Homo sapiens: one gene and its partner. The protein of the gene in region 1 purifies or fractionates together with the protein of each later gene. This does not show direct contact. Each region holds a gene or a part of one and is shown in the gene's direction. Other genes may lie near its edges.

What was found. Proteins that work in one complex are often made in the same cells at the same time.
Region 2: the proteins of RNF139 (region 1) and INSIG2 purify together in Homo sapiens (affinity purification with western blotting, with the first as the bait; one study listed by BioGRID). This does not show direct contact.

What each region holds. Positions count from the first base shown.
Region 1 is NC_000008.11:124,481,323-124,484,974, forward strand, and holds part of RNF139 (E3 ubiquitin-protein ligase RNF139), read left to right. Parts: intron 1-1,937; exon of another isoform or gene 1,938-2,085; intron 2,086-3,652. UniProt on the Homo sapiens protein: E3-ubiquitin ligase; acts as a negative regulator of cell proliferation through mechanisms involving G2/M arrest and cell death.
Region 2 is NC_000002.12:118,101,922-118,105,573, forward strand, and holds part of INSIG2 (insulin-induced gene 2 protein), read left to right. Parts: intron 1-1,275; coding exon 1,276-1,400; intron 1,401-3,652. UniProt on the Homo sapiens protein: Oxysterol-binding protein that mediates feedback control of cholesterol synthesis by controlling both endoplasmic reticulum to Golgi transport of SCAP and degradation of HMGCR.

The sequences.
Region 1 (3,652 bases):
GAGGTATTTCGGGTACTTGGAGAATTGTAAATATTATGTTTTGTACCCTGATTTTTAGTCATAAGTTTCCAAAAGAGGGTAAGGGTATGAATAGACTTTACACATAAAAGAGTGAAACACTTTGTTATGTAACATGTATAGTAAGTTTTTATTTTTTCTTTTGTTTTTATTTGCCTGTTTTTGGTAATCCAAATTGAAAAGGCCTGAACTCTTTCATGAGTTGAGTTCATATATAGTTTCAAAGTTCCTGAATTGATTTGGATACCTGCCTCTTTTTGGCTACCTTGAAAACTCTAGTGAACTCTCTTAATCACTGGAGAATTGGACTGAGATCTCTGAGTTGTGATTTCAGTAAATTCTGTTCTCAAAATTTTTTATAAAGCAGCATTTATATACAGTCTTGATTACTTGTGCAAGTCACTTCCAAATCCTAATGAGAAACTGTCTCTGGACTTTTATATTTTCTTAGACCTACAGTTTAAATACCAAGAAAGGCTTTCATGTCTAATGTAAAAATGCAGTGAAACTTTGATATTATTCTGCAAAGGCCATGAGAAAGATGATTACTTTGGAGACTTGTTACTTAGGATATTGGTTTTTAAAATGAGAGCAGATTCTTCCCAAATTCCATAGGTAGGAACGTGACTATAAAAGGAAAATCTATGAACCCCATATACCTACAAACTTTGGGTAGGAATTAAAACAAACATATACTATTCTTGAAATGTTAACTCACTATTACATCTTGGGGGGTGTGATTTTAATCAGGATAGAGTATTGTCAGATTGTTACTTGCTGGGATACATCCAAATTTTGAGGTTGTAGTCTTACTACATTATTTGTCTATCTGATGCCTTCCCCTTTTTTTCTTTGATACATTTGCATAAAGCAAAATGGCACTTTTTCACTAGAAATGTTTCTAAAACCCAAATAATTTCTTCATTTGTGTGTAGTAAAAACAAGCTTCAGGAAAAAAGTTATTAGAATTTTAAAAATTAGTTATAAAATTATGGCAAAGCTCATGAATAGTTACTGAAGATTAATTTACTACTTTGTGAATAGCAAGTTGACAAAAATAATTTACAGTTCCTGCTTGACTTTCTCCCCTCTAAGTGGCATAAAGTAGAACTAGAGTTATTTTGTTTTGGTTTTGACCCAACTTAGAAGATTTGTTTTAAAGTTTCTGAAGTTTTGTCTCAGGAAAATAAGGTGGTTTTCCATGTAGAGAATGTAAGATTACATATGGCATCTGGTAGGCTGAATTAATTCCATTTTCTTGTTACCTTCCATGGAAGAAGTTTCTAATAAAAAAATCTTTTCAGGGCCGAGCGCAGTGGCTCACGCCTATAATCGCAGTAGTTTGGGAGGCCGAAGCGGGTGGATCACCTGAGGTCAGGAGTTTGAGACCAGCCTGACCAACGTGGAAAAACCCTGTCTCTACTGAAAATGCAAAATTAGCTGGGAGTGGTGGTACATACCTGTAATCCCAGCTTCTTGGGAGGCTGAAGCAGAAGAATCGCTTGAACCTGGGAGGCAGAGGTTGCAGTGAGCCAAGATCACGCCATTGCACTCCAGCCTGGGCAACAGGAGCGAAACTCCATTAAAAAAAATATAAAAAAAAATATATATATATATAATATATATATATTATTTAAATATATATATATTTAAAAATATATATATTAAAAATATATATATATATTTAAATATATATATATTTAAAAATATATCTATTAAAAATATATATATATTATTTAAATATATATATATTTAAAAATATATATATTAAAAATATATATATTTAAAAGAGCCTGTTCTGAGCTCACAACTCTTTGGGGGATTATTAGTGGCCCATTTTCTTGGGGAATCAGGTGGTTTGTATTTAGAGGTTTATATGTCTTCTACTTTATTGTGTCCTTTTGTTTTCCTTTTCACAGATGACTTGACATTTTGGCACAGAATACATTTTAAATCCCTGGACAGAGTCATCACTTAAATGAACTAGCCCTTGCTTATATGTGCAGTGGATTGTGAAATGCGTCTACTGTAATAATATGCAATGTCTTGATTACCTGCTGAAATAAGGTGGATAGATGGATTTTTATTTTATTTAATATTTATTTATTTATGTATTTTGAGACAGGGTCTCACTGTCACCCAGGCTGGCATGCAGTGGTGCGATCTCAGCTAACTGCAATGCCTCCCGGGTTCAAGCGATTCTCCCACCTCAACCCCCTGAGTAGCTGGGAGTACAGGCACGTGCTACCACCCTGGCATATTTTTATATTTTTGGTAGAGACAGGGTTTCACCATGTTGACATGGTCTTGAACTCCTGGCCTCAAGTGATCCACCCGCCTCAGCCTCCCAAAGTGCTGGGATTACCATTGTGAGCCACCACACCCAGCCAAGATGGATTTTTAATTTGGAGTTTGTCACTTTTTCTGTACTCCAGGGTATGGTTTCTCATTGTCTGAAACATAGATTTTATTTTTCAAGCAGGCTATATTTTGTGGTTGCCTTTAAAAACATCCAGATGTGACAGACATTTCCTAATGAATACTAATTGTACTTATTTTGTACAAAATATTGTAGAATCCATAGATGGACAGGGTAGGATCTTTGCTTTCTGTTATAGATACATGTGTAATAGGGTAGATTATACTTAGATAACTGCAGACTACAATATCAGGTGATATATGAGTGTTAAATGTTTCACTAAGTTCTGCAGGTATGCTGAAAGAACAGTTTCTATCAAAGAAAGTAGGTTTCTAGGATAGGTAGGATTTGAATAGTCAGGGATTGGGAGGTTGGGGACATCATTCCAAGCAAAAAGAATGTAAACACTGCTGTAGCTATAGTGGAGAAAGGAATGTGTTTGGGGAATCCAAGTCTGGAGCACTGATGTGTGTGTGTTAGGAGGAATATTACTGTAAAGCAAATTGGGTTCTTGAATGCCAGGAGCAAGAATGTAGATTTTAGTTGATAGTAATTTCAGAGCCGCTGAAGTATTTTGAGCAGGGAATGAAGAAAGGCAATTTGGTGATGGCTTGTAAATGGATTTGGACAAGATGAGGGTTTTTTGAGACAGACTGATTGATTGGTGTCACAGAAAAGGGAGATAGAGGTGTTAGAAGAATTTGGCAACTAATTGGCAAAGTTTGAGCATGTGGGGCTGGGTTGGGAGTATCTCTAAAAGAACAATAATGGTACCTTCAACTGAAATAGCAAATCACAAGGAAAAGCTGATTCTAGTTTAAGGCAAGTCGAGTTTCAGAACTTTGGAGATTTGCAGTTGTAGGAGTGAAAGTAGGTGAGTATTCAGATGTCATTCCCATTGTTGAAACCTTGGATAATAATGTGTTTATTGTAATCCTACTTAAAATATGCATTTCTGTCAGAGTACAAAGAAAGATGGTGTCTATGGAGTGGGGGAAGGAGAATTACCATTTTCTAAAAACATGTCTTGGTTTTCTGAGTGTTACTTTTGTAATGTGAAGAACAATAAAAAGAGTTGACTATTTTAAGAAACAGATTCAGCATTATACAGGAAAAAGGGAACTTGGAAGATGTTTCTAAGTCCGAAGGAAACTAGGAGGAAAAAAAATGGAATTTTGGACCCTTTGGAGAATGCTCAGAGTTAAGGAGTAGGAA
Region 2 (3,652 bases), on another chromosome or scaffold:
AGATAGAAGGGTGGTCACACAGCCTTTTTCAAATGCTGCACCATTGGTCTGCTAGGCTGTGATTTTTGATACTAATTGGTTTCTGTTTTTCTTCGAAGAGTGAATGCATTGCCTGTGAGATACAGCTGGCTAATACTGGGTAGGGGGAGGGCCTCTTGTCCCTCAGGCACTTAGATTTTGGCGTTGTAATTTCATGATTCCTCTTAAGTGGTATTGGTTATTTTAAACATGCTTTTCAACTGATGTGACAGTAGTGTCTTTATTGCCAGAATGGCACAACATAATCATCCTGTTTTTAGGAAGATTAGAATATTTTCATTAAATAGTCTTTTTAATAACTAATTTAGCACTTAAAATTCCTTCCCACTAAATGAATAAAATGTTGAGGTTTGAGAAATAAGAAAGGGATGAGAATATTTTGGGACTCAATCATTGACATTTTATATACAGTTATGTATAATTAATGACACAACATTCAAAGTGTTCTTTCCAAAACTAAGAGAAGTACTAAGATGATTTCTTCTTCTAACAGTGCACTTAAAATTTAACTGAAAATTTTAAATACCTCTACACCTTGTTTCCTCCATTGTTTCTATGTGCAGAATGAGTCTTACCTGTAGATTTCTGTTGTGAGTTTTCCTGCTTTGACAATATGACCTACAGCCTCATTAAAGGGCTAGAGTGGAAAGGAGTGTCAGTAAAAGGTGCTACATGCTGAAGACTAAAACGGGAAGCTGGTAGGGGCGAGACTGATCTACGTAAGAGGCCAGCCAGAACCTTCAGAACATTGTGTGTATGATGAGCTTGTTGTATACTTTTATACTTCTAGATTCTCTTAGATTTGTGGCATATAATAAATATTTTATGGTTTGGAGTTTAGAGAGAACATTACTTAACTGCTAACTGGTTTGATACTTTTTTCAGGTCTCGTAGGTATCAGTAGTAGAAAAGTAGCATGAATCATTTAGTAGCACGAATCATTTAGTCCAGTCTGCTAAATTGTGAATCATACATTTGAAGAGTATTTTGTTGATTATAATTTAGAATGTTGTTGTAATCATTTGCAATACTTTCTTCATTGGTGTTATCCTCATTTCATTTCCTTTGGAAGGTAAGTTAAAAAATATCGGTGATTGATGTGAAATAACTTTTTTTTTTGTTTTTTTTTTTTTAAGAATCTTTAAAATGCTTGTGGTGGTTGTAGTGATTCTTTTAGCTTAAGTGTTGCCAGTACAACATTGGAGGTAACTTAATTTTTTTCTTTTTTCCCTACAGCTGTGATTGGGTTATTATACCCCTGCATTGACAGACATCTAGGAGAACCACATAAATTTAAAAGAGAGTGGTCCAGTGTAATGCGGTGTGTAGCAGTCTTTGTTGGTATAAATCATGCCAGTGCTGTATCCTTTACTCTGTAATGAAATGCATAATAACAAAGTGGCTTCCAACAAACCAAAGGTTAAACAGCCCCTTACAACTTCACTGTTGTCAAATTATGATATGCCCACTTAGTCAGAAGAAGAATGTCAACCATATTGTTGAAACATCGGTGTAGCAGCTGTGCAATTATAAAGTGGGGTATAGCCTTTCATTTCATTGTGTATTTTTCACTATCACTTAGAAACTTTGCAAATTTGAAAACTTTACTTGTTTTTCTTAAATTTGGTTACTTAATTACTTTTGTGTAGTTAATCCAAAAATGGAACAGGTACATTTTCAGAGGAGTTTTTTCCTCTCTTTCTTTGTTAAGAATTGCTAATAAGTACATGTGGTAGCTTCAGGTGCTATTTTGTCTTTTGTTTTTCTTAACTTAAAGAAGCTTTTTTTTTTTAAAGGTAGATGCATTGGTTTTAATCAATACCGACAAACCACATAAACGGCATAAGTAGAAATACCAACTTAGACCTTGGCCAAAAAATAAGTTTCTACCCTAGTACATATTTTCAAAGTTTTATTGTTTGAAGATTCAGACATTTTATTTAGTGGTTAATGAGTATTTTTACAGTGTCTCAGGTAGCCCCTATTCCCCTTCCCCTTTCTACCTTCTCTGCCCAGAAAAAAATGTTTGCCCTCATAAGGTTTTCCTCCTATCATCCTCTTTATTTCCTCTCTTGTACTTCCTCCTCATTTGCTCTGACTTTCCTTGGTAGAAGAGGAACTAGGAAATGCTATTCCTGTCTTTTTCTAGGAGATGTGGTTTAGACAATGAAGGTGGCAGGAGCCTTGGGTACTTGGAAAAGCAAGAAGTGTGACTCAGGCTGCCAAAAGTTTGCTCTTATAACTCTGCACTGGACTTGGGGCAGGCAGAGTTAGCTAGCTGGAGAGAGAGGGTGGGTCATGTGTCAAGTAGACCCCTGTGTCTTTCCCAAAAAGTATTGAGGTGTTTTGGATAAGCTTGGGGACAGAAACCATAGAAAAGAGCAGGGTCCTAGATTCTGAAAACACATCTGCCTTCCTCTGCACAGTTGTGCTGGCTGTTGCAGGTCTGTGAATTTGGAAGTCCCTCAGTGGCTATTATTAGTTTTAATTTCTGTTTGTATTGAGGACATTTCCACATGTTTATTTTGGTGAACTTTTTGAGATTTAAGATTTTATAAAAAATCTAGTGGTCAGGAGGGCTTAAAAAGTTAAAATCATATACTATTATATCTAGAAGAGAACTTAGAAATCACCTAGTTCCACATTTTCTTTGTAAAGATAATAAACAGAAGCTAAAGAGGTTAGGTAATTTACTAAGTCATTTATACTGCGACATTGCAGCAGAGCTGAGAACAGCCCTGAGACAGCCTGACTAAAGTCTAGAAACATCTCATTTTCCTACCCAGGAACCTCAAAACTGTGTCAGTTCCTCTCTGTCCGGTGGATTAGATCTTTCTCTCTTAGACACTTCCACTTTGATTTTTGTTTTTAAGTAGAGAAATTTAAATAGCCTTTTCTGAAATTCTAAAAACTTAATAAGTTCAAATTCTTTGCTTTGTTCACTCTCTTTCTCAATGAAATACTTAAATATAGCAATCTTAGATATCCTGTTGTCCTTCAAGTAAAGTCCAACATGTTTACCAAATTTATAGCATACACTTCTAATATTAGGTTACTTAGACTTTACAAAATCATTTGGCACTATTTTTTTATTTTTTGAGACGGAGTCTTGCTCTGTCACCCAGGCTGGAATGCAGTGGCACAATCTTGGCTCACTGCAAGCTTCGCCTCCCGGGTTCACGCCATTCTCCTGCCTCAGCCTCCTGAGTAGCTGGGACTACAGGCACCTGCCACCACACCCGGTGAATTTTTCTGTATTTTTAGTAGAGATGGGGTTTCACCATGTTAGCCAGGATGGTCTCAATCTCCTGACCTTGTGATTCGCCCACCTCGGTCTCTCAAAGTGCTGGGATTACAGGCATGAGCCACCGCACCTGGCCCATATGGCACTATTTTAAGATTGATATATCTATTTACGCTGGAAGCCTCCTTACTTCGCTGTGACTTTTAATTAAGTTTAGTTAGCAAACATGAAACTCATTTAATACCAAATTCCACTCTTTACATGAGTGTTTATTTCATAGGGAAATCAGAGCTCTAAACCTTTTCTTTGAACTTTAAGTATAATGACAGCATAACAATAAGAAAAGCTTTTCCAGAAGCATACCCATAT